Linked DNA regions of Homo sapiens. The protein of the gene in region 1 purifies or fractionates together with the protein of each later gene. This does not show direct contact. Each region holds a gene or a part of one and is shown in the gene's direction. Other genes may lie near its edges. The genes, in order: PTCH2, DHRS3, TAP2, DHRS7, ADCY3, PLEKHH3 and WDR44.

The links.
Region 2: the proteins of PTCH2 (region 1) and DHRS3 purify together in Homo sapiens (affinity purification with mass spectrometry; one large-scale study listed by BioGRID and IntAct). This does not show direct contact.
Region 3: the proteins of PTCH2 (region 1) and TAP2 purify together in Homo sapiens (affinity purification with mass spectrometry; one large-scale study listed by BioGRID and IntAct). This does not show direct contact.
Region 4: the proteins of PTCH2 (region 1) and DHRS7 purify together in Homo sapiens (affinity purification with mass spectrometry; one large-scale study listed by BioGRID and IntAct). This does not show direct contact.
Region 5: the proteins of PTCH2 (region 1) and ADCY3 purify together in Homo sapiens (affinity purification with mass spectrometry; one large-scale study listed by BioGRID and IntAct). This does not show direct contact.
Region 6: the proteins of PTCH2 (region 1) and PLEKHH3 purify together in Homo sapiens (affinity purification with mass spectrometry; one large-scale study listed by BioGRID and IntAct). This does not show direct contact.
Region 7: the proteins of PTCH2 (region 1) and WDR44 purify together in Homo sapiens (affinity purification with mass spectrometry; one large-scale study listed by BioGRID and IntAct). This does not show direct contact.

The regions. Positions count from the first base shown.
Region 1 is NC_000001.11:44,836,754-44,840,253, reverse strand, and holds part of PTCH2 (protein patched homolog 2), read left to right. Parts: intron 1-3,500. UniProt on the Homo sapiens protein: Plays a role in the control of cellular growth. May have a role in epidermal development. May act as a receptor for Sonic hedgehog (SHH).
Region 2 is NC_000001.11:12,576,711-12,580,210, reverse strand, and holds part of DHRS3 (short-chain dehydrogenase/reductase 3), read left to right. Parts: intron 1-798; coding exon 799-918; intron 919-1,187; exon of another isoform or gene 1,188-1,254; coding exon 1,255-1,493; intron 1,494-3,500. UniProt on the Homo sapiens protein: Catalyzes the reduction of all-trans-retinal to all-trans-retinol in the presence of NADPH.
Region 3 is NC_000006.12:32,828,740-32,832,239, reverse strand, and holds part of TAP2 (antigen peptide transporter 2), read left to right. Parts: intron 1-1,433; coding exon 1,434-1,622; intron 1,623-1,799; coding exon 1,800-1,973; intron 1,974-2,150; coding exon 2,151-2,310; intron 2,311-2,703; coding exon 2,704-2,840; intron 2,841-3,205; coding exon 3,206-3,334; 3' UTR 3,335-3,500. UniProt on the Homo sapiens protein: ABC transporter associated with antigen processing. In complex with TAP1 mediates unidirectional translocation of peptide antigens from cytosol to endoplasmic reticulum (ER) for loading onto MHC class I (MHCI) molecules.
Region 4 is NC_000014.9:60,146,009-60,148,398, reverse strand, and holds part of DHRS7 (dehydrogenase/reductase SDR family member 7 isoform 1 precursor), read left to right. Parts: intron 1-177; exon of another isoform or gene 178-2,390. UniProt on the Homo sapiens protein: NADPH-dependent oxidoreductase which catalyzes the reduction of a variety of compounds bearing carbonyl groups including steroids, retinoids and xenobiotics.
Region 5 is NC_000002.12:24,826,238-24,829,737, reverse strand, and holds part of ADCY3 (adenylate cyclase type 3), read left to right. Parts: intron 1-1,576; coding exon 1,577-1,836; intron 1,837-2,129; coding exon 2,130-2,192; intron 2,193-3,500.
Region 6 is NC_000017.11:42,670,705-42,673,994, reverse strand, and holds part of PLEKHH3 (pleckstrin homology domain-containing family H member 3 isoform 1 precursor), read left to right. Parts: coding exon 1-61; intron 62-160; coding exon 161-352; intron 353-438; coding exon 439-596; intron 597-698; coding exon 699-819; intron 820-1,602; coding exon 1,603-1,909; intron 1,910-2,436; coding exon 2,437-2,644; intron 2,645-2,864; coding exon 2,865-3,001; intron 3,002-3,289; coding exon 3,290-3,290.
Region 7 is NC_000023.11:118,394,606-118,398,105, forward strand, and holds part of WDR44 (WD repeat-containing protein 44), read left to right. Parts: intron 1-643; coding exon 644-739; intron 740-2,364; coding exon 2,365-2,501; intron 2,502-3,500. UniProt on the Homo sapiens protein: Downstream effector for Rab11 which regulates Rab11 intracellular membrane trafficking functions such as endocytic recycling, intracellular ciliogenesis and protein export.

The DNA.
Region 1 (3,500 bases):
GCGGGCGCCTGTAGTCCCAGCTACTTGGGAAGCGGAGACAGGAGAATTGCTTGAACCTGGGAGGCGGAGGTTGCAGTGAGCCAAGATCGCCGCACTGCACTCCAGCCTGGGCAGCAGAGGGAGATTCCATCTCAAAAAAAAAAAAAAAAAAATTTCAGCATGACTCTCTTCTTTCCTGAGGGCTGGTTTCATATGGCAGCCCTTTGATAGGAGTCAAACTCCAGTCTGTTTTTCCCTGGGAAATTTGCATTTTGTAGACTCCCTCAGCCCTGGCCCATACCCAAAGGCAGAACCCAGGTTGGAGTCTCACACCCTCGAGTTATTTCAAATACTGGCAAGTCCTAGGATCCACAGCAGATGTTTCTCAGAGCTTGCCTGCCTGTTGAGCTCCCACACGCCATCCCCACCCTACCTACCCCCAGCCCTGCAGACTCTCACATCCATATACACTCTAGGCCAGCCCTGGGGTCCAGAGCAGATGTCTCGCTCTGCCTGCCTGCCCCCAGCCCCAGGACACAGATGTGCATACACGCACATACACATATCCCCACCCACACCACTGCTGCCTGGGTGGTCCCAGATGACTCTTGGATTTCCTGCCCCAACAGAGGCAGTCTCCCTTCCCTTCCTCCCTCTCCATTCCCCACATTCTCCCCATCTAAACACTGCTTGAGCCTCCATGTTTCCTCATCCTCTCTCCTATACTCCAGCATAGGATAGGCTAGACCCCAGCAGTTTTTTGCTGTTGTTTGGGGGAGGGTTTTATAAGAGGATGGTAGCCAATTCCTAGGCTTTTTTCCTTTATTTCAGAATATCACTCTTGTCCTATATTGGCTGGGGGTGAGGTAAAAATCTTTTTTTTTCTTTCTGTTTTTTTTTTTTTTTTTTTTTTGAGAGTAAGTCTTGCTCTGTTGCCCAGGCTGTAGTGCAGTGACGCAATCTCGGCTCACTGCAACCTCCGCCTCCCGGGTTCAAGCGATTCTCCAGAGTAGCTGACACTATAGGCATGCGCCACCATGCCCGGCTAATTTTTTTGTATTTTTAGTAGAAACAGGGTGTCACCATGTTGGCCATGCTGGCCTCGATCTCCTGACCTTGTGATCCGCCCGCCTTGGCCTCCCAAAGTGCTGGGATTACAGGCCTGAGCCAGACGCTAGGCCAATCTTTTTTTTCATAGAGATGGAGTCTCACTGTGAGACCCAGTCTCAAAGAAAAAGTGTAAGAAGGCAGGGTGCAGTGGCTCACGCCTGTAATCCCAGCACTTCGGGAGGCCGAAGTAGGTGGATCTCCTGAGGTCAGGAGTTCAACACCAGCCTGGCTAGCCTGGCTAACTTGGTGAAACTCCATCTCTACTAAAAATACAAAAATTAGCCAAGTGCGGTGGTTCGCGCCTGTAGTCCCAGCTACTCCAGAGGCTGAGGCAGGAGAATCGCTTGAGCCCAGGAGGCAGAGGTTGCAGTGGGCCAAGATCGTGCCACTGCACTCTAGCCTGGCGACAGAGCGAGACTCAAAAAAAAAAAAAAAGAAAAGAAAAAGAAAGATTAAGCCGAGGAAGAAACCGAACATTGGCTATCACAGTGTTCCAGACCAGAGTTCAGGGTCCTCCTTAACTTTGCCTCAGTGAGACTTGGAATTTGACTTGTTTGTCTTTCCTGGCCAACTGTAAAGTCAAGCGTTCAGAGGCAGATTGTTCTCTAAAATGAAAATTACAAAGGCCTGGCACGGTGGCTCACGCCTGTAATCCTAGCACTTTGGGAGGCCGAAGCGGGTGGATCACTTGAGGTCAAGAGTTTGAGACCAGCCTGACCAACATGGTGAAACACTGTCTCTACTCCAAATACAAAATTAGCCAGGCGTGGTGGTGCATGCCTGTAATCCCAGCTACTGGGGAGGCTGTGGCAGGAGAATCGCTTGAACCCGGGAGGCAGAGTTTGCAGTGAGCCGAGATCGCGTCTTTGTACTCCAGCCTGCGCAACAAGAGCTGCCATTCCATGTAGAAGACAGAGGATGGCCTTATATCAGTTGGTAGAATCACCATCCACTTAAATACCTAAAGCTAAAACCTTAGGAGTCAGCCTCAGTTCTTGTTCACCCAATTGTTTACTAAACTATTAAATCCTTGCTTCTTAACCTCTCTCATAACAAACCCATCCTTTCTTTTTTTTTTTTTTTGAGACGGAGTCTTGATGTGTTGCCCACACTGGAGTGCAGAGGTGCGATCTTAGCTCACTGCAAGCTCCATCTCCCGGGTTCACGCCATTCTCCTGCCTCAGCCTTCTGAGTAGCTGGGACTACAGGCACCCGCCACCATGCCCAGCTAATTTTTTTGTATTTTTTTTAGTAGAGACAGGGTTCCACCATGTTAGCCAGGATGGTGTCGATCTCCTGACCTCGTGATCCGCCCGCCTCGGCCTCCCAAAGTGCTGGGATTACAGGCTTGAGCCACCGGGCCCGGCACAAACCCATCCTTTCTACCTTGTGGTCACTGCTCTAGTTGAGGCCTTGTTCTATCTCTGGCAATACACTTCTGATTGTATCATTTAGAATGCTTTTAGGCCAGGCGTGGTGGCTCATGCTTGTAATCCTAGCATTTTGGGAGGCCAAGGTGGGAGGCTTGACTGAGCCCAGGAATTCAAGACCAGCCTGGGCAACATGGCAAAAACCCATCTCTATTTCTAAAAAATTAAAAAATAAAATAAGGCCAGGCACAGTGGCTCACACCTGTAATCCCAGCATTTTGGGAGTCCAGGGTGGGGTGGATCACCTGAGGTCAGGAGTTCGAGACCAGCCTGGCCAACATGGCAAAACCTTGTCTCTACTAAAAATACAAAATTTGGCCACACATGATGGCATGTACCTGTAATCGCAGCTACTCCGGAGGCTGAGGCAGGAGATCACTTGAACCCAGGAGGCGGAGGTTGCAGTGAGCTGAGATCGTGCCATTGCACTCCAGCCTGGGTAACAGCAAGACTCTGTCTCAAAAAAATATATAAATAAATAAATTAAATTAAATAATAGAATGCTTTTAGCCACATGAAAAGAGAAGAAAAGGAAAGGAAGAAGGGAAGAAGGAAGAAAGAAGATTGATTTATTATTCTCTGTAACAGGAAGCCTGGTTAATTCAGTTAATTCGGCAGCCCAAGGACATTAGCAAGGACCCAGTTTCTTTCTATCTTTCTCCTCTGCCATCTTCAACATTCTGGACTTTTGTCCTCAGACTTATCTCAAAGTGGCTGCTGCAGTGTCAGGAAAAAGAAATCATTCTTGTCTTGCATTTCTTTTTGTTTTTGTTTTGTTTTATAGAGACAGGGTCTCACTCTTTCACCCAGGCTGGAGTGCAGTGACACAATCACAGCTCACTGCAGCCTGGAACTCCTAGGCTCACACAGTACTCCTGCCTCTTTCTCTGTAGTATCTGGGACTACAGGCACATGCCACCATGCACAGCTAATTTTTTTGTTTGTTTGTTTGTTTGTTTGTAGAGACGCAGTCCCACTATG
Region 2 (3,500 bases), about 32 Mb from region 1:
GGGCTAAATATATCAGTGACCTCCAAGAGAGGGAAACCCACCCTGACTGTCTGGCACGTGGTAATGTTAACTGTTTTTATGTCGCAGTAAACTCATTTATTATAAATATGCTGTGTGCCAGGTACGGTGTGTGCCATAAATTATTTCTCCTCCTCAGAACAGTCCTGGTGCGGCATTAGCCCCATCTCACAAATCAAGACTGGCGCTCAGAGACGCAGTTCTCTTCCCCAGGCCCTGTGGCTGCTGGTGGTACGGCCAGGTGGCTGCTGGGCCTCTATGTATGCAGGATAACTGGAACTAGGCTGGCAGAAAGTGGCCTGCGGGAAGGAATATCTAAGAAAAACTTGTAAATAACACATCAATTGATTGATCATAAATGGACTCAGAAATTACTCGTTCACTTAGGAGTAAGCCATATCCCTTTTAAAAAGTATATTGGACCGGGTGCGGTGGCTCACACCTGTAATCCCAGCATTTTGGGAGACCGAGGCAGGCGGGTCACTTGAGGTCAGAACAAGATTAGCCTGGCCAACATGGTGAAACCCCATCTCTACTAAAAATATAAAAATTAGCCAGGCATGGTGGCAGGAGCCTGTAATCCCAGCTACTTGGGAGGCTGAGGCATGAGAATCGCTTGAACCCAGGAGGCGGAGGTGGCAGTGAGCCGAGATGGTGCCACTGCACTCCAGCCTGGACAACAGAGTGAGACTCCATCTCAAAAACAAACAAACAAAAAACATATATCGTTGGCCCTGGGCTGGCTGCCCTCATGGCCCCGTGGCTCCCTCTCGCCTGCAGGTGGGTGACATCACCATCCTGGTGAACAATGCCGCCGTGGTCCATGGGAAGAGCCTAATGGACAGTGATGATGATGCCCTCCTCAAGTCCCAACACATCAACACCCTGGGCCAGTTCTGGGTAAGGGCTATCCGGGGCCAGAGCCAGCCCCGGGCGTGCAGGGAGCCCAGGCAGGATGGAGGGGAGGGGATGATTTGCCAGGGCTTGGGCTCAGGCCAGCAGGGATGTCCACGAACAAGGTGGCCAGACAAGACGAATGACCAGCTCTAGGACACATCAGACTTTGTGAAATATGCTCGGTGTCCTGGGGCAGGGAGCCCTCGGCCCTCTCCCTCGCAGGAAGGCTCGGGCCCTAGAGCATCATGTGTGTCCGGGGTGGGCTGTTCTCCCCGAAAGAAAGGTGGAGGGGTTGTCAGAGCTGCAGCTGCTCCACCCTGACACCCCATCTGCCCTCAGACCACCAAGGCCTTCCTGCCGCGTATGCTGGAGCTGCAGAATGGCCACATCGTGTGCCTCAACTCCGTGCTGGCACTGTCTGCCATCCCCGGTGCCATCGACTACTGCACATCCAAAGCGTCAGCCTTCGCCTTCATGGAGAGCCTGACCCTGGGGCTGCTGGACTGTCCGGGAGTCAGCGCCACCACAGTGCTGCCCTTCCACACCAGCACCGAGATGTTCCAGGGCATGAGAGTCAGGTCAGTGAGCAGGGGACCCACCTTGAGACCAGCCTTCTCACCTGCCTCCCCAAGCCATTCAGTCAGCCAACTGCAGAAAGAGCTCTGATATAAAAATCGGGCTAGGCACGGTGCCTCATACCTATAATCCTAGCATTTTGGGAAGCCAAGGCAGGTGGATCGCTTGAGCCCAGCAATCCAGTTTGAGACCAGCCTGGGCAGCATGGAGAAACCCTGTGTCTAAAAAAAATAAAAAATTAGCTGGGCATGGTGATGCACACCTGTATTCCCAGCTATCTGGGAGGCTGAGGTGGGAGGATCAATTGCTTGAGCCCAGGAAGTTGAGGCTGCAAGTGAGCTGTGATTGTGCGACTGCACTCCAGCCTGGGAGAGAGAGTGAGACCCTGTCTCAAAACAAAAAGTCACCAAGGAGCCTCTACCCTCTGTTTGACGCTGTCTTACCTGGTTCTCGGTCTGCAAGGCAGTGATGCCACGATGGGGAGGGTCCTGCTGCTTGGTTCAGGGAGCTTATAGGAAACTACCAGAGCTACAGGCATGCAGCGGGATGTGTCTAAAGGTCAAATGAGGGAGATGCACCTCCACAGCGTCGTGCAGGGCGAAGGGAGCTTGAGACATAGGGTGCATTCTGCCTGGTTCCACCTGTATGAAGTTCCAAAACAGGCAAAACTGGGTTAGGGTGATGGAAATCAGACCCGTGGCTTCCCCTGGAGGGCTGGGGGTGTAACCTGGGAGGGAGGCGAGGGAACTAGCAAGACCTTCAGAAATGTTCTCTCTTCTTGAACTTAGCAGTCATTAAATACGTGAAAGTTAATCAAACTGTCTGCTTAAGATGTATACCTTTTGTTATATGCAAATTATAGCTCAATTTATTTGTTTGTTTATTTAGTTATTTATTGAGATGGAGTTTCGCTCCGTTGCCCAGGCTGGAGTGCAGTGGCGCGATCTCGGCTCACTGCAACCTCCACCTCCTGGGTTCAAGTGATTCTCCTGCCTCAGCCTCCCGAGTAGCTGGGATTACAGGCGTGCGCTTGCACCCAGCTAATTTTTGTATTTTTAATACAGACGGGGTTTCACTATGTCGGCCAGGCTGATCTCAAACTCCCAACCTCAGGTGATCCACCCACCTCAGCCTCCCAAAGTGCAGGGATGACAGGTGTGAGCCACCACGCCTGGCCGTAGCTCAATTTAAAATGAGTAATAGGGAGGTCCCACCACTCCTCCTCCAAACCAGTTAAGTCAAGGGGAACGGGGACCACTGGTCTAGAGCTCATGCCACCTGGGGTGGTGACTCCCTCATAGCTGTGATGTACTCTGTGACATTGGGTCCCGTTAATTACTGCTGTGGCTGATCTGCAAGATGGGGTGCGCGAATGTCTCCATCATAGGTTCTGCAGTGAGGACAAAGTGGAATCTGGCAGGGAACACCGTGTGTGGTACATATTAAGTGCCCAATAAATGGCGCTTTAATGATGTGCAGTTATGTAGGGGCATGACGTCATCGATGAATGAAAACCGGGAATTACTCAAATACTATTCTCCCTGGTTTTTTGCAATCCAGCGTACAGTGCTTCACCTTCTGATTATATATTGCAGCTGCTTCCAAAAATGAGGATGACACGGAAGGGTCATGAGGAGAATTCAGTGAGACAATTTAGTGTAGTGCATGCCACGTGGGAGTCACTCATTACGCCTTAGTTACTATTAATCGGGACAGTGCGGTGTTGATTGTTGAGAATCAAAAATACCGGGCTTGGTGGCTCATGACTGCAATCCCAGCACTTTGGGAGGCTGAGGCAGGAGGATGGCTTGAGCCCAGGAAATTAGAAATAATACATGTAACACATCTAGTGCAAAGCCCGGATACTAGATGCTCAATAAGGAGCTGCTGCTTTTATTATTTTTCCTAACAATAAACATCTTCATAAATGCATGTTATTAATTTTCCTAGCAGACCACCTGGTTTGCATGCAAATTGTCATCAATTCTGAATTTCGAGGAGTCTAGACT
Region 3 (3,500 bases), on another chromosome or scaffold:
CAATACAAAACCAAAACCCGCAAGTAATTTTGCTATGGAGAATTTTAAACATATGCCAAAAATGAGACAAAATAATATTACAAACTCACATGTATACATCCTGTGCTTTAACAATGATCAACTCATGCCCAATCTTGTTGGATCTGTATCCCCAGCCACTTCCCCCCACCCATATTATTCTGAAGCAAATCCAAGATATTGTATACTTTCATCTGTAAATATTTCAGTATGTTTCTTAAAAATACAAACATCTTTAAAAGTGTATAACAACAAAGCCATTATCACACCAAAAAATTAACAGTAGTTCTTAAAATTTATCAAATAGTCAATTGTCAAATTTCCACTTGTGGTATCCATGTAGTATATGTGTATGAGTGTGTTTATTATACTTTGCTTAAATCAGGATCCAGAAATGGTCCACATATTGTGACTGGTTGATACATCTTTTAAGTCTGTCTGTCTATCTATCTATCCATCCATCTATCCATCCATCCACCCATCAATCCATGTATCTGTCTAAAAGTTTCCCTTGCACAGTTTATTTGTTGAAGAAATAGGTTGTTTGTCCTGTGGAGTTTCTTAGGGTCTGGATTTTGTTGACTGAATCCCTGTGGTATTATATGCTCTTCTGCCTCTGTACTTCCTGTCTATTGATAGATAAACCTAGAAGCTTGTGAGATTGAGGGGTTTTTTTTGGTCTTTTTCCAGCAACAGTACTTTTTAGGTGGTGATGCATTCTTCCTCCAAGAGGCACACAATGTCTGGTTCTCTATTTGTGGCAACATCAGCCACTGATGAGCAGTACCTACATCCATGACAGAATTAGGGCTGCAAAAGGGAGATACTCTATCATTCTTCATGTATTAGCTGAAGTAGTCTATGAAGGGAGACTTCCCCTCATCTACCATTTCATTACCCGGTGGTACAGTTTGATGAGGAAAGGCAGAGTGAGCATTTAGATCTCTTCCTACATTTACCAGTTCTCAAAAACAGCTACTTCATCCAGGGCTTTATTTAAACATTTTCCTAGACACTTGATAAACATCTTTTTTGTGTAGAGAACTGCGCTGGGCACTCTGACGGCTACAAAGGTGAGTTGGGCACAGTGCCTGCATTTAAGGAGCTCCCCGTCTAATCAAGCAAGACAGAACTGGGCACAAGTAATAGGAAGCAGTAACTGAAAAGATCTGGGGCTAGAGGCAATGCTGTATGGTAGGAGAAGGGACTGTATATCCTTTATATTGCAAATTGGAACACTGGGGTATTGGTGCCACTTTTAAATTCCGTCCAAATTGTACATTTAAAAGTGGAGAATCTCTTTTGAGTATGGAGGAGGAGCAGTGCAGTTGTGAGTGGAGTGTGTGAGGAGTTGGGAGGGTGGTTTCTGGTAGAAGTGTGTTTAATTAGCCGGCTCTCCCATTCCTGTTTTCCAGACCCTGGTATACATATATGGGGATATGCTCAGCAACGTGGGAGCTGCAGAGAAGGTTTTCTCCTACATGGACCGACAGCCAAATCTGCCTTCACCTGGCACGCTTGCCCCCACCACTCTGCAGGGGGTTGTGAAATTCCAAGACGTCTCCTTTGCATATCCCAATCGCCCTGACAGGCCTGTGCTCAAGGTGCCTGAAAGAGGGAGGAAACCTGGACCCTTGCTCTCTGCTGCTAATGCATAATTGGACATCACAGCCTATAGTTCATTTGCCTCTGAGAACCTGGTCTTGCCTCTGCTAAGAAGAGAAATGGAGGGATTTTGAGGGAGAAGGGGCAGGCCCTTAACTCTTTTTCTGGTTTTCTAGGGGCTGACGTTTACCCTACGTCCTGGTGAGGTGACGGCGCTGGTGGGACCCAATGGGTCTGGGAAGAGCACAGTGGCTGCCCTGCTGCAGAATCTGTACCAGCCCACAGGGGGACAGGTGCTGCTGGATGAAAAGCCCATCTCACAGTATGAACACTGCTACCTGCACAGCCAGGTGGGTGAGGAGGGAGAAGACAGGGGACAGGAGAGGGGAGCATGTACAGAGAGAGGATGGGAGATCCACGGGAAGGCGCACCAGGTGTTCATTCTGAGGGAGGTAGGTGGGGAGGACAAAAGGGCCCCTGCCTTGGGGGTTTACACATAGTCCTCTGCCCCTGTCCCTGCTGCACAGGTGGTTTCAGTTGGGCAGGAGCCTGTGCTGTTCTCCGGTTCTGTGAGGAACAACATTGCTTATGGGCTGCAGAGCTGCGAAGATGATAAGGTGATGGCGGCTGCCCAGGCTGCCCACGCAGATGACTTCATCCAGGAAATGGAGCATGGAATATACACAGGTATCTTCTACAAATTGTAAGCTTGCTCCTTCAGTAAAAAAGAGAAAATCAGACTTACTCTTAGTGGTGAAGGTCGTGTCCCTGTAGCTTGATGTTTGCTGTTCCTCTGCCCTTTCCTCCATTCCTACGTCTCCTTCCCCACACACTGAATTCTTCAGCCTCCCTCTTGATCAAGAGTCTTTGTTTGCAGAGAGCAATGCAGCAGTGGTGCTCCCTCCGTGGGCAGCCCCGTCAGGTCCCCACCCCATGGCCCTCCTCCCACTGGGCCCTCCCCGCACTGGGCCCTCCCACCTCCCGAGGTCCTACTGGAAGTACCTGCTGTGCACTTGTCCCTCCTTGTGTGTTGTCTGTGTCACTTGTATCTGAGGAAGGGAATTTCTCTGATTTCCTCAGATGTAGGGGAGAAGGGAAGCCAGCTGGCTGCGGGACAGAAACAACGTCTGGCCATTGCCCGGGCCCTTGTACGAGACCCGCGGGTCCTCATCCTGGATGAGGCTACTAGTGCCCTAGATGTGCAGTGCGAGCAGGCCGTGAGTACCGTGAGAGGGCAGGGGACAGTGGGGCCTGGGAGGGGCATGCTGGGAGGATCAGACTGTGCAGAATTGGGCAGAGGGAGGACGAAGGACCTACTAGTGGAAACAGTCTGTGCCTTCTTGGGGTTGGGGAATGGAATCCGGTGGTGTGAGGGCAGCCCCAGTTCCCTCCTGGGCTTCCATTCCTCCAGCTGTGGCAGTACAGCCGGGAGAGAAGGGCAGTCCAGGCCTTTATCTACTGCCCTTTCCTACCTTCTTTTATTTCACACCTTCTTTACCCTAAATCATAAGAGATGGTGCCCAGGTGGATGTGGTGTCCATCTCATTCCTGTCTTTCTGAGGCACTGTGATCACCCCTTCAGCTGCAGGACTGGAATTCCCGTGGGGATCGCACAGTGCTGGTGATTGCTCACAGGCTGCAGACAGTTCAGCGCGCCCACCAGATCCTGGTGCTCCAGGAGGGCAAGCTGCAGAAGCTTGCCCAGCTCTAGGAGGGACAGGACCTCTATTCCCGCCTGGTGCAGCAGCGGCTGATGGACTGAGGCCCCAGGGATACTGGGCCCTCTTCTCAGGGGCGTCTCCAGGACCCAGAGCTGTTCCTGCTTTGAGTTTCCCTAGAGCTGTGCGGCCAGATAGCTGTTCCTGAGTTGCAGGCAC
Region 4 (2,390 bases), on another chromosome or scaffold:
TTATAGATGATTATGCAGCAAAAGATTATTGCTGAGGATGGTTTTTACTGTTAGCCTTTGATATACTTTGTTACCACCTTCTTTTAGAAATTAATCAATGGGGATTGACAGATAAAAAAAGAATTATAAAACAAGATCATACTATATATACCTGCAAAAATTTAAGCAATCCACTAATTGTTAGACATTTAATTTATTCCAACTCTTTGCAGGACAGTGAAAATGAATTAGGGGGTAAAAAGTTACAAACACAACAAAATGCTTAAGAGACATAAAAGGTTATCAGACTGGGTCATGACACACTAAAATGTCCAGAGTGTGAAAAATCAAAAAGGAGCTTTTCGTTTTCTACCAAGTAGTAATGTGGAACAGTTTGCTTTGGGCCAGATCCCTTATGAGTGTTTTGGTATTGTTGGGACTTGGTAGTGTGGGTAGAAGCTCTAAAGGTAGAGTTTCATCAAAGAGTATACCTGAGTTTTAAATATGGAGGACAGCTGATGCAGTAGCTTTGTGCCCAGTGATGGAAAGAGTTGAGAGGGACAGGCCACCTTACTACAGAGGAAGCACAGCCTCCTGGCAGAGCATGCAGCCTGGTGCTAGGCTACCTGGGTTCAAATCCCAGCTCTGCCCCATGCCCTTAAAGCAAGTTACTTCTCTATCACTCAGTCTCCCCATCTATTAATATAAGATGGAGATTAATGATGATAATAGTGCCCAGTCACAGGATTGTTATGGGAATTACATGAATTTAATATATGAAAAGCACTTAAAACACAACTTGGAGTGTTCTAAGTGTTAGCTATTGTGCTTTTTCCCCCTTCTCAGCTTGAGTTAGATATAGCAGGATATTCAGCTTCCTTAATGATCAAAGATTTTCTTTATAATTGACACATAAAAATTATATATATTTAAGGTATACATTGTGATGATCTAATATACACTGTAAAATGATTACCACAATCAAGCTAATTAATACATGTCACCCAGTTACCTTTTTTTGTGTGTGGTGAGAACACTTAAAATCTTCTTAGCAAATTTCAAATATGCTATACAGTATTATTAACTGTAGTCACCATGCGGTATATTAGATCCTTAGAATCTGTAAATTATAATAACATAAGTTATTTATCTTATAACTGAAAATATCTACCATTTTTTTTCTTTGAGACAGGGTCTCGCCCTGTCACCCAGGCTGGAGTCTGCAGTGGCGTGATCATGGCTCACTCCCATCTCTACCTCCCAGGCTCAAGCAATCCTCCCACCCCAGCCTCCTGAGTAGCTGAGACTATAGGCGCACACCACCATGCCTGGCTAGGTTTTGTAGTTTTTGTAGAGACGGGTTTTTGCCACGTTGCCCAGGCTAGTCTCAAACTCCTGGGCTCAGGCGATCCACCTACCTTGGCCTCCCAAAGTGTTGGGATCATAGGTGTGAGCCACTGTGCCTGGCCAAAATGTGTACCTTTTGACCAAGATCTCCCCATTTCCTCCATCTTCTGGCTCCTGGCAACCATCATTCTACTCTGCTTTTGAGTATGACTTTTTAGATTCCACAGAAGTGAAATCACATAGTACTTGTTTTTCTGTATCTTGCTTATATCACTTAGCATTAACGTCCATTCATTATCCATGTTTTCACAAATGCCAGGAGTTCCATTGTTTTATGGCTGAAAAATATTCCATTGTGGAATAATATTCCATATATATATATACACACACAGACACACACACACATTTTCTTTATCCATTCATTCACTAATGGACACTTAGGTTGTTTCCATATCTTGGCTATTATGAATAATGCTAAAATGAACATGGGAGTGTAGGTATCACTTCAAGGTACTGATTTCACTTCCTTTAGATTTATACCCTTAAGTGGAATTGCTGGATCAGATGGTAATTCTATTTTTAATTTTTTGAGGAATTTCCGTATTTTCCATAATGTCTGTACTGGTTCACATTCTCAATTTAAATAATAGGGCAGAGAAAGAATATATTATAGAAGTGATTTTTTTTTCAAAGGGGAAAGAGGGACCAGGGACTAGAGAATTTCAGTCCCACTGTAGTAGTACTTCCAGAAATGTCCATATGAAGGATATTTTGTTTTGTTTAGAGAATATCTAACTGTAAAATATAAACATCATTTAGCAAATCTCGCATTTTTTTTACATCTAGGTTTTTCTAAAAAAATGACAGCCTTTTTCTTCCTACCACCATCTTTGAAATATTGCTTATTATATAGTCTTACTACTTTGTCACTCTTTATTATAAGCTGGGCATTCTGTCATTTCTCAAAGCAATTTTTAGGACATAATACCTCATTCTTTATAGTCTGTACTCTTCCTCTCTCCCACTATTTTATATTTTATATATATGTATATATATAAATTTTC
Region 5 (3,500 bases), on another chromosome or scaffold:
CAATTGGAGCACACGGTGCCGGGCGCAGTGGCTCACGCCTGTAATCCCAGCACTTTGGGAGGCCAAGGCGGGCGGATCACGAGGTCAGGAGATCGAAATCATCCTGGCTAACACAGTTGAAACCCCGTCTCTACTAAAAATACAAAAAAATTAGCCGGGCGTGGTGGCAGGCGCCTGTAGTCCCAGCTACTCAGGAGGCTGAGGCAGGAGAATGGCGTGAACCCGGGAGGTGGAGCTTGCAGTGAGCCGAGATTGTGCACTGCACTCCAGCCTGGCAACAGAGTGAGACTTTGTCTCAAAAAAAAAAAAAAAAAAAAAAAAAAAATTGGAGCACACAAATACAACCAACATGGAGACTTATTCTGCCAGTGGTATAAGTGAAAAAGCTCCAGGGCTGCAGCTAATCAGAAGTCCAGTGGGGGGCCGGGCGCGGTGGCTCACACTTGTAATTCCAGCACTTTGGGAGGCTGAGGCAGGCAGATCACTTGAGGTCAGGAGTTTGAGACCAGCCTGGCCAAGATGGTGAAACCCCGTCTCTACTAAAAATACAAAAATTAGCCAGCCACAATGGCACGAGCCTGTAATTCCAGCTACTTGGGCAGCTGAGGCAGGAGAATCGCTTGAACCTGGGAGGTGGAGGTTGCAGTGAGCCAAGAATGCACCACTGCACGCCAGTCTGGGCGACAGAGCGAGACTCCATCTCAAAAAAAAAAAAGAAAAAAAAGAATAAGTCTACTGGGAATGAGGAGTTAGGGGCTCCAGAGCCTACCTTGGCCAGGGGTTGCTGGTGCCCACTACCCAGGGAAGAGAAGCCCCAGGCCCCCTGCATGTCACAACATGCCTGGAACCTGGCACCCAGGTGTGGAGGTCACCACTGCATGGGGTCCTGGACACTGTACAGGACACCTGGAGATGCTGTCACTCATGGAGGGGTAAAAAGCTAGGGAGGTGTAACAACTGCTCATGCTAGAATGACATGGCGGGAATCGCGCAAGCAAGACAAGGTTGCCCTGTGGGTGAAAGTTACAAAAAGGGGGGGTTGATTCCGGTTCTGGATGCGCTTTCTCCCGGCCGCATCTGCCCAGTAGCAGAACCAGTAAAGAATCCAGAAGGCAGTGAACATCCCCCCAATGGAAGGATTTGGGCAGAGACTAGCTGTCATCACGGGGAGGCTGTGAGTGGGGCTCATGGTCCCGTGGCCCCTCCTGAAGCAACAGTGTGATATGGGGAAGAACATGTTGGATTTGAAGCCTAAAGACTTGGCTCCTACTTTTGGCTTTTCTGCTTGCTAATTGTGTTTGGGCAAATCTGGCCCGAGTTTTCTGTACAATAGGGACAGTACTAAAAATACTCGAGAGAGTTTTTGTGAATGTCAAATGAGGCAACGGCGAGGCTCTTAGCTGCAGTTACTAACTTTCATATGATTAGTCCCTGGTAAATTTCCCCATCTTTCCCGGTATTTCTGGGGGAGCCGCGGGAGGTGGCAGCTGAGCGTGCACTACCATGCACAGCCCTCTGTGACCAGCACCTGCTGTTCTCTTGAACGTGTGTCCCTGCCCGCCGTCCTGGCCTCCAGCTCAGCTGTCTCCAGTACTACACGGGACCCAGCAATGCAACGGCAGGGATGGAAACGGAGGGCAGCTGCCTGGAGAACCCCAAGTATTACAACTATGTGGCCGTGCTGTCCCTCATCGCCACCATCATGCTGGTGCAGGTCAGCCACATGGTGAAGCTCACGCTCATGCTGCTCGTCGCAGGCGCCGTGGCCACCATCAACCTCTATGCCTGGCGTCCCGTCTTTGATGAATACGACCACAAGCGTTTTCGGGAGCACGAGTAAGATGAAGCGTGACTGGGGATCTGTATTGTCTCCTTCCTCCCGCCCGCAAAGTCCTCAGTTCAAGCTCATGGGCCTGTGCTGAGGTGGCTTTCTGCCACTAGGGGTCCTCAAAGGCTTGTTCAAGAACCAGTTCCTGGCTGCTCACAGACGTATCACTGTTTGGCTAGGACCTGAGAATAGATTCTTCCCATTCTCCCCGAGTGGAGGACTTGGGATACCCCGGTGCCTGGCTGGGCATCAGGCTCTTGTTCCCAGATGGGGCCTGACTGTGCTGTTATCTGTCCAACAGCTTACCTATGGTGGCCTTAGAGCAGATGCAAGGATTCAACCCTGGGCTCAATGGCACTGACAGGTAAGGGCCACGGCTTCCCCTCCTGGCCTGCACTCACAGCCCTTCTTCTAGAGACAGGAATATAACAGGCCCAAGCCCCGGGATCTCACCCTCCCGGGAGGCACGTGACCTGATACGTGCAGGTTAGAGAAGCTGGCATGGGTTCCTCCAGGAGGGCTGCAGCAGTGCAGTGAGGAGGGAAGGAAATACCAGGTGGATGGCAGCTGCATGTAACTGGCTGGCAGGACAGACAGGCAGCAGGAAAATGAGGAGGGAGGAAGACGCTTTGGATTTGGACCTGGCTTCTGAGCCTGCAGCAGGCAGTAATTCTCTGTGGGTCACAGGCAGGTCCGTTTCCATGAGTTGCAATTTCATCTCTTGAGGAGGATACTGAACCAGAAGTTCTCTAAGGTCCCTGCCAGTGCCAAGGTTTTAAAATTTTATGATTCCATGACTTGAACAGACCTTCAAGGAAGTTTAGAAATAAAAAGATGACCTAATAGAAGAGGGGTAAAACCTGCATAGCCCTTAGCAAAAGAAGAACTCTAAATGGCCACTAATAAATGGCACTCAAGTAATCAAGGAAATGCCAGTTACACCCTAGTGAGATACCATCACACACGTACCGGTCCAGATAACTCTGACAATATCAAGTACAATAGTAACTCTTACACTCCTGGTGGGAGTATGAGTTAGTACAACCGTGTTAGAAAATATTTTGATCTATTTAGTAAGGTTGAAAATAAACCTGTGTCCCAGCAATTCCACTCCTACATACACACCCACGCAGACGTGTGTATATGTGTATATATATATATACACACATCTTAGAGAAATTCATGCACATACTCATGTCCCAGGATATATGTATGAGAATGTCCAAAGTGGCACTGTTCGTAATAGACATACCCCCTCCCCCAAAACAAATGAAAACAACCCAAATGACATCAACAGGAAATGGATACATAACTGGTATATTCATGCAGTGAAATACCATACGGTAATGGAAACTAACCACAGCTCCACATAAAAATATGTATGAACAAGGTAAAAAGCCATGGTGAGATTGTACCCCAGTCCCATGGCTATGAAATCCCATCACTGATGTCTCTTGCTTCTCCAAATTCCTGCATGGTTGTAGCTACCTCTGTGATCAGTCAGGCAATGCAGTGTTTCTTAAATACCTGGGGAGCAGCCCTGATGTGAATACCAGGTGCAGCCAGGAGGGGCCAGGGGTTGCCTGGCTGTTGGAGAGGAGCCCAGTGAGTTAAGAAAATTTTACTGCCCGGGGGAGCCCGACTTGATGTGAAAGGGCCTAAGGAGCCGGGG
Region 6 (3,290 bases), on another chromosome or scaffold:
ACTTGGAGCCTCATCCCGGAGAAAGGGCTGCCGGAGGACGACCCGGACATCGTTGTGAAAGGTAGAGACCCCCCTCAGTGCACTCTGGAGGCCCCCAATCCCAACCCCCTAGGGATTAATGTCTCTACTGATGTCCCTTCCCTCCCTCTCCGGCCCCCAGGTTGGCTGTACCGGGAGCCCCGCGGAGGAGGGGCGCGGCCCTGGCTGCCCCCGCGCCGAGCCTGGTTTGTGCTCACGCGGGACTCCCTGGATCAGTTCAGCAGCAGCGGGAAAGGGGCGCGGCGTCTCGGGAGCCTCGTGCTCACCAGCCTGTGCTCGGTGACCGGCCCAGAGCGCAGGCGTAAGGAGACAGGTGAGACCTCCTGGGGACTCTCCTACCTTCCTAGGCAGGGGCCCCGGCAGACCCTAATGGCCCTCCCTGGCCTCTCTTTTCCCCAGGTCTGTGGTCAGTGACTGTGTCTGGTCGGAAACACAGTGTCCGCCTCTGCTCCCCACGCCAGGCAGAGGCTGAGCGCTGGGGGGTGGCATTGCGGGAAGTGATCGCCTCCAAGGCACCCCTGGAGACCCCCACCCAGCTACTGCTCAGGGACATACAGGTACACACCAGGGAGAGCCAGGAGAGTGGTGGACCCCAAAGCTTTCTGGGGTTGTGAGGAACTCCCTTCCCCATCAAGGTGACCCTCTCCCTGGCCCCCTAGGAAAGTTGCGGGGACCCAGAGGCCGTTGCCCTCATTTACCTGAGGAACCCGATTCTGAGACACACTAGTGGAGCCTTGTATGCCCCACTCCTGCCCCTGCCCTATGGAGTCAGCGCCCCAGGTGAGTGGTCCCATGGCCCAAGTCCCCTGGATGGGATGGGGTGGTTCAGAGGTAAGAATCTGAATCCCTTAACTGGCAGGGATCTAAGCATCCTTCATGGACCTGCCAGCTCCTCACTTTTCGAAGGATGAAGGTGAAACTGGAAGCTGGCCAGGGTGGAGGAGAGGAAGCCAGCACACACAAAAGGGCCCCCTTTGGCCACCTTCTCTATGGGTCTCATTCTGACTACTGATGTTCCTTCAGGAGTTTGTACACTCCCCTATTTTTTCATTATCCTCTTGAGACTATGCCATATTACCTTTACAAGTGGTAGAAAAGCTACCACTTTTGTAGAATGTGCTGGCCTCATCCAACTGTACTTCTCCCTAAACGGTGTAGTGACTGGCCCAGGTCCTAAAGTTAGAGGATTAAAGGGTGCTGGGAGAGGAACCCCGGTTTTCTGACTCCTAGTCCAGCCTGTTTTCTGACCTATGGTGGTGAGCCTCAGTATGGAGTTACAGAATCTGGGGTGTGAATCTACAGCCCTTCCCGGCCGTCCGTCTCCCTAAGTCCAAATGCAGGCTTAGTGGGATTGGGAAGGGGATTCCTGGGAGGCAGAGGTTGAGAGTCTGGCTCCGTGGGACCACTGCTTTCCCTTCACTCTTCCTGTCGTTCGTACCCTCCCCTCCCTGCCACCCCATCCCCTTATATTCCCTCTGACCTTCCCCTGGTTCATGCCTTCCTCCCAGGGCGCAGCTCTGTGTCCCCTCTCCAAACCGTCCCTCCGCCCCCACCCTCCCACAGGTCCGGGCTATGCACCCCTGCGCGAGGAGGCGGTGCGGCTGTTCTTGGCGCTGCAGGCGCTGGAGGGGGCGCGGCGCCCCGGGCCCTTGATGCAGGGTGTGCTCCAAACCTGCCGGGACTTGCCCGCGCTCCGGGATGAACTCTTCCTGCAGCTGGCTAAGCAGACCTCGGGCCCTGCAGGTCCCCCCGGGCTCCCGGCTACCCAAGACCCTGCGGCCCTGCGGTACTGGCAACTCCTCACCTGCATGAGCTGCACCTTCCGACCTGGGGGAGCTGTGCGGGGGCACCTCCTGGGGCACTTGGAGAGGTGAGAGGGGCGAGGTGGGGGTTACGGCCTAGGCGAGGAGCTACCGGGCTGGGAGAGAATGAAAGGTCTTTTGCAAAAGACTTGGTAGGTAAAGAACCGAGTAATACATACAGTGCCTTTGTGGGAGATACAAGATCCTATCGCAGTTGTGAGCGGATGAATTACAATAAAACGCCCCCCTTGGGCTGAGGAGTTATGAAAAGGCTGCTTTTCCTCCAGCTGATGCAGGCCAGCGCCAGGGCTTAGGAAAATGTAGTAAAGTGGCTGGATTTCGATTTCAGGCCGAAGGAAGATCACGAAGACTTTTGGAAGTGGTGGAGGCAGTTGGGAGAAAGCTGCCAGGGGACTTGAAAAGTAATTCAGCTCTATGCAAAGCACTGGGGAGAGATTTAGAAGAGCCTTCAAAGAACTTGAGTTGGGGCGGGGAGGAAATCGGCTAGATAAAATAAACTATAAGAGAAGCAGGCAAGAGGGAGGGGGAGAAGAAAGCCCTTGGAGTATTGATCCCTGGGTTCCTCCTAACCCAGGACCGAGCAGGCACTCCCGGACTCGGAACTGGCGGAATATGCGCGCTTCATCCGGAAAGCGCTGGGCCGGACGCGCGGCAGAGAGCTGGTGCCCTCGCTGGCGGAGATTTCCGCGTTGAGCCAACGGCAGGAGCTGCTGTGTACCGTGCACTGTCCGGGGGCTGGTGCCTGTGCTGTGGCCATCGACTCCCACACCACGGCGGGGGAGGTGAGGCCAGAGAAAGGCCCCATGACCTCCAACCCACCCTGCCAGCTTCTCACGCCTGTCTCTCCCTCTTCCTGGACCCTAGGTTTGCCCCGAGTCTAGATTATTTTGGTAAGGGAGGGAGTGGTGGTGACAGGACTAAGAGACCCCTTCCAATTGAATCAACCCCTCCCAGAATCCTGGCAAGACCTCTGAGTGGTCTCCCCTCACCCTCCTCTTCTAGGTGGCTCGAGAGCTGGTGGGGCGGCTGGGCTTGGCCCGGAGCCGCAACGCATTCGCGCTGTACGAGCAGCGAGGGGCCCAGGAGCGAGCCCTGGCTGGGGGGACCCTCGTGGCCGACGTGCTCACCAGGTTTGAGAAGTAAATGTCCAGCCCCAGCCCTGCTCTCTATTAGCCCATCCACTTCTCAGCTGAGGTCAGTCTCTAAGCGGACATTATCCAGCGCTTGCCCCTGGCCCTGCGCTGTGGTGTTCGCTGGTTTACAGACGGACCTGCCCGCCGCAGGTTTGCAGTCCGACTGCAGCATCACCTCCGCTGTCGGCTCCGCCCAGGCCCCGCCCCAAACACATGGCCCCGCCCCCACCCCAAGCTGCCCTCGCCGTAGGGGTCCGGCTTCTCCCTAGCGCTTCGTCCGCTCCTCTTCTGCAGC
Region 7 (3,500 bases), on another chromosome or scaffold:
CTTTATATGCTAGGAAGCGGGCTACACAAAAGACTTGATAACACTAATTTTACCACAGCCAGATTCTGGGACTCAGAGCTACTTACATGGTAGCTGTGGTGGGCCAGGCTACCACACTAGAATATAGGACACTATAGTCTTGTTATAGCCTTAGAGCAGGGGTCAGTAGTGGCCTGCTTTAGGAGGTTCCCCAAGCTAAGAATGTTCTTTACATTTTTAAAGGTTGTTTAAAATAAGAAGAAGAATATGTGACAGAGACTCTATATGAACAAAAATGCCTTAAATATTTACTGTATGGCTCTTTATAGAGAGAAGTTTTCTGACCCCTACCTTTGAGGTAGCCACATACAGTCCAGATTAATAGCAGTCTTAGTAGAGAAATGCCTTTTGGCCAGGTTCAAATAGAACATTTATTTGTTTTCAAGAATACTAAGACATTATTTCATGAGCAGCAATAGTTTTGGTTCCTAATGTTTTTCAGCATGCTGGGAAAAATGAAGGACTGAAACGTAATGTTCCATTTAGATTTTCAGCAGACTCCATTATCTGAATTATGAAATTCTTTAGAATTATATGTGGTAATAATTGAAAATTTATAGAAATTGATTCAGTCTAATTTCTGTTTATAAAATTATATTTCCAGGAAAATGGAAAAGCACCTGATGGGCAGACTGTAGCAGGTGAAGTGATGGGCCCTCAGAGACCTAGATCCAACTCTGGGAGAGAGCTTACTGATGAGGTAGAAATAGATTTTTTTGTTCTTGTTCTTAAAACATAAAGTACAAAAAACATAATGGGAAGATGAAAACGTTCTGGAGATGGATGGTAATGATGGTTGCATGACAATGTGAATGTACTTAATGACCCAGAACTATACACTTAAAAATGGTTAAAATGGTAAATTTTATGTTATGTGTAGTTTACCACAATTTAATTTTTTTTAAGTTTATTGCTGTTACACACAAAAAAAAATACAGAAGAAAAAATGAAAATTGAAGATTGTCTTTGTTGATATGCTGGATGTAGCATCTCTGACTTAAACTTGCCCTTTCACTGTGTTGCATAGTGGAATAAATATATTGAAAGCAAGGTTTATATTTTATAGAAAGTGGGCTTTAAAAGAACTTGATATTGAGGCCAGGTGTGGTGGCTCACTCCTGTAATCCCAGCACTTTGGGAGGCCAAGGTGGGCAGGTCACTTGAGGTCAGGAGTTTGAGACCAGCCTGGCCAACATGGCAAAACCCTGTCTCTACTAAAAATACAAAAATTAGCCAGGCATGGTGGTGTGCATCTGTAATCCCAGTTACCCAGAGGCTGAGGCAGGAGAATCACTTGAACCTGGGAGGCGGAGGTTGCAGTGAGCCGAGATCACACCACTGCACTCCAACCTGGGCGACAGAGCAAGACTCGGTCTCAAGAAAAAAAATTTAAAATAATATAATAATAAAAGAACTTGATATTATGAATATATGTTATACCAAAATAAATTTTTTTATTATTTTAATGGTTTCTTATCATTAAAACTTAGTATGCACCTATTAGCCAACTTATTCAGAATTAAATTTTACAGCAAAATCTTAGTTGATGTTTCTTTAAAACAATACATTTCTTAAAATATTGCACTTTGGAAAACAGTTTGGCAATTCCTCAAAATGTGAAACATAGTGTTACCATGACCCAGCAATTCCGTTCCTTTGTATATACCAATGAGAAATGAAAACATATGTTCACACAAAAAAATGTACACAAATATTCACAGCATCATCATTCATAACAGCCAGAAAGTGGAAACAACCCAAATGTTCATCACTGATTGGATGGATAAATAAAATGTGGTATATTCATACCATGTTATATTTTTTAGCAATTAAAAGGAATGAAGGGATAAAGTACTGATACATGCTACAACATGGATAAACCTTGAAAACATCATGTTAAGTTAAAGAAACCGACATAAAACGCCATATATTACAGGATTTGATTTATATGAAATGTATGGAATAGGCAAATCTATAGAGACAGAAAGTAGATTGGTATTTGCCAGGGGCTAAAAAGAAAGGGAAATGAGGTGTGACTGCTAATGGGTAGGGAATTTCCTTTTGGGGTGCAGAAAATATTCTGACTTAGTGGCAATAGTTGTACAACTCTGTGAATATACTAAAAACCATTGAATTATATGCTTTAAATGAGTGCATTTTGTGGCATGTGAATTATATCTCAATAAAAATGTTAGAAATTATTGTGTGCAGTATTGAATATATCTAAAAAGCCTTTAGCTTAAATTTTAGGGGATTTTGTAGACTCAAAAAGATAATTAAATTGCAGGTCATCTTGGTGTGATTGTTTTTTTTTTTTAACCTCAGGAAATTTTAGCCAGTGTAATGATTAAGAACCTGGATACTGGAGAAGAAATACCTTTGAGTCTTGCAGAAGAGAAACTACCAACAGGCATTAATCCTCTCACTCTACACATCATGAGAAGGACAAAAGAATATGTAAGGTATGGCCTAATGTTGTTATTTGTCATTTCTAGTATTTCAGAGTTGTTAAGATTTCTCTGTTAATGAACTATGACAACCCCTAATTTGGTTTCATTCAGTCTTTTTTCTTCTGGAATTAAAATAGAGTTAGATAATGTATGTATTCTTTAACTTTGCTCTTCATTATGACTGTACAGTTACTTGGGGAAAATAGTATAAATATTAAATCCCATAGCACTTAATTTCTCTTTTTTAATGATTTAAATTATACTTGAGACAATATAAAAACAGTGAGGCAGCCAGGCGTGATAGTTCATGCCTGTAATCCCAGCACTTTAGGAGGCTGAGGCAGCACTTGAATTCAGGAGTTAGAGAGGAGCCTGGGCAACATAGTGAGACCTCATCTCCACAAAAATAAATAAATAAATTAAAATAACAGAAAAATGAGGCTAAAAAGCTATGTAGAATGAACACTTAGTCTTCTGAAACCTTGCTTTAAGGATCATAAATTGTTTAAATATTTGTACTGTTTTTGTAGGATCAGAAAATGGCTTTAAAATGAGATGAGTGACTTTACTACGAGATGTATGTGGATCTATTGAATCATTTTGGTAAAAGCAGGAGCTATTTTATTAAATGTAATGCAGGATGTACTTAATGAGTGGGGAGGAAGATACCTACAAGTTACTTTATTATTTCCCTATAGCACATTTTGCCAAGCAAAAAGGTTTGTTTGTAGTAGGTTTTTCATAAATTTCTAAATTGCATTCATTTACATGTTGTACATTGAACCTTGCTTAAAGATTCTTTTCTTCAATTTCTGAAGCCTTTAAGTTGTCAGGTCCATCATTTAAATTAAAATTATATGGGCCGAGCACAGTGGCTCACACCCGTAATTCTAGCACTTTAGGAGGCCAAGGTGGGTGGATTGCCTGAGCTCAGGAGTTCGACACGAGCCTGGGCAACATGGTGAAACCCTGTCTCTACTAAAATACAAAAAATTAGCCAGACATGGTGGT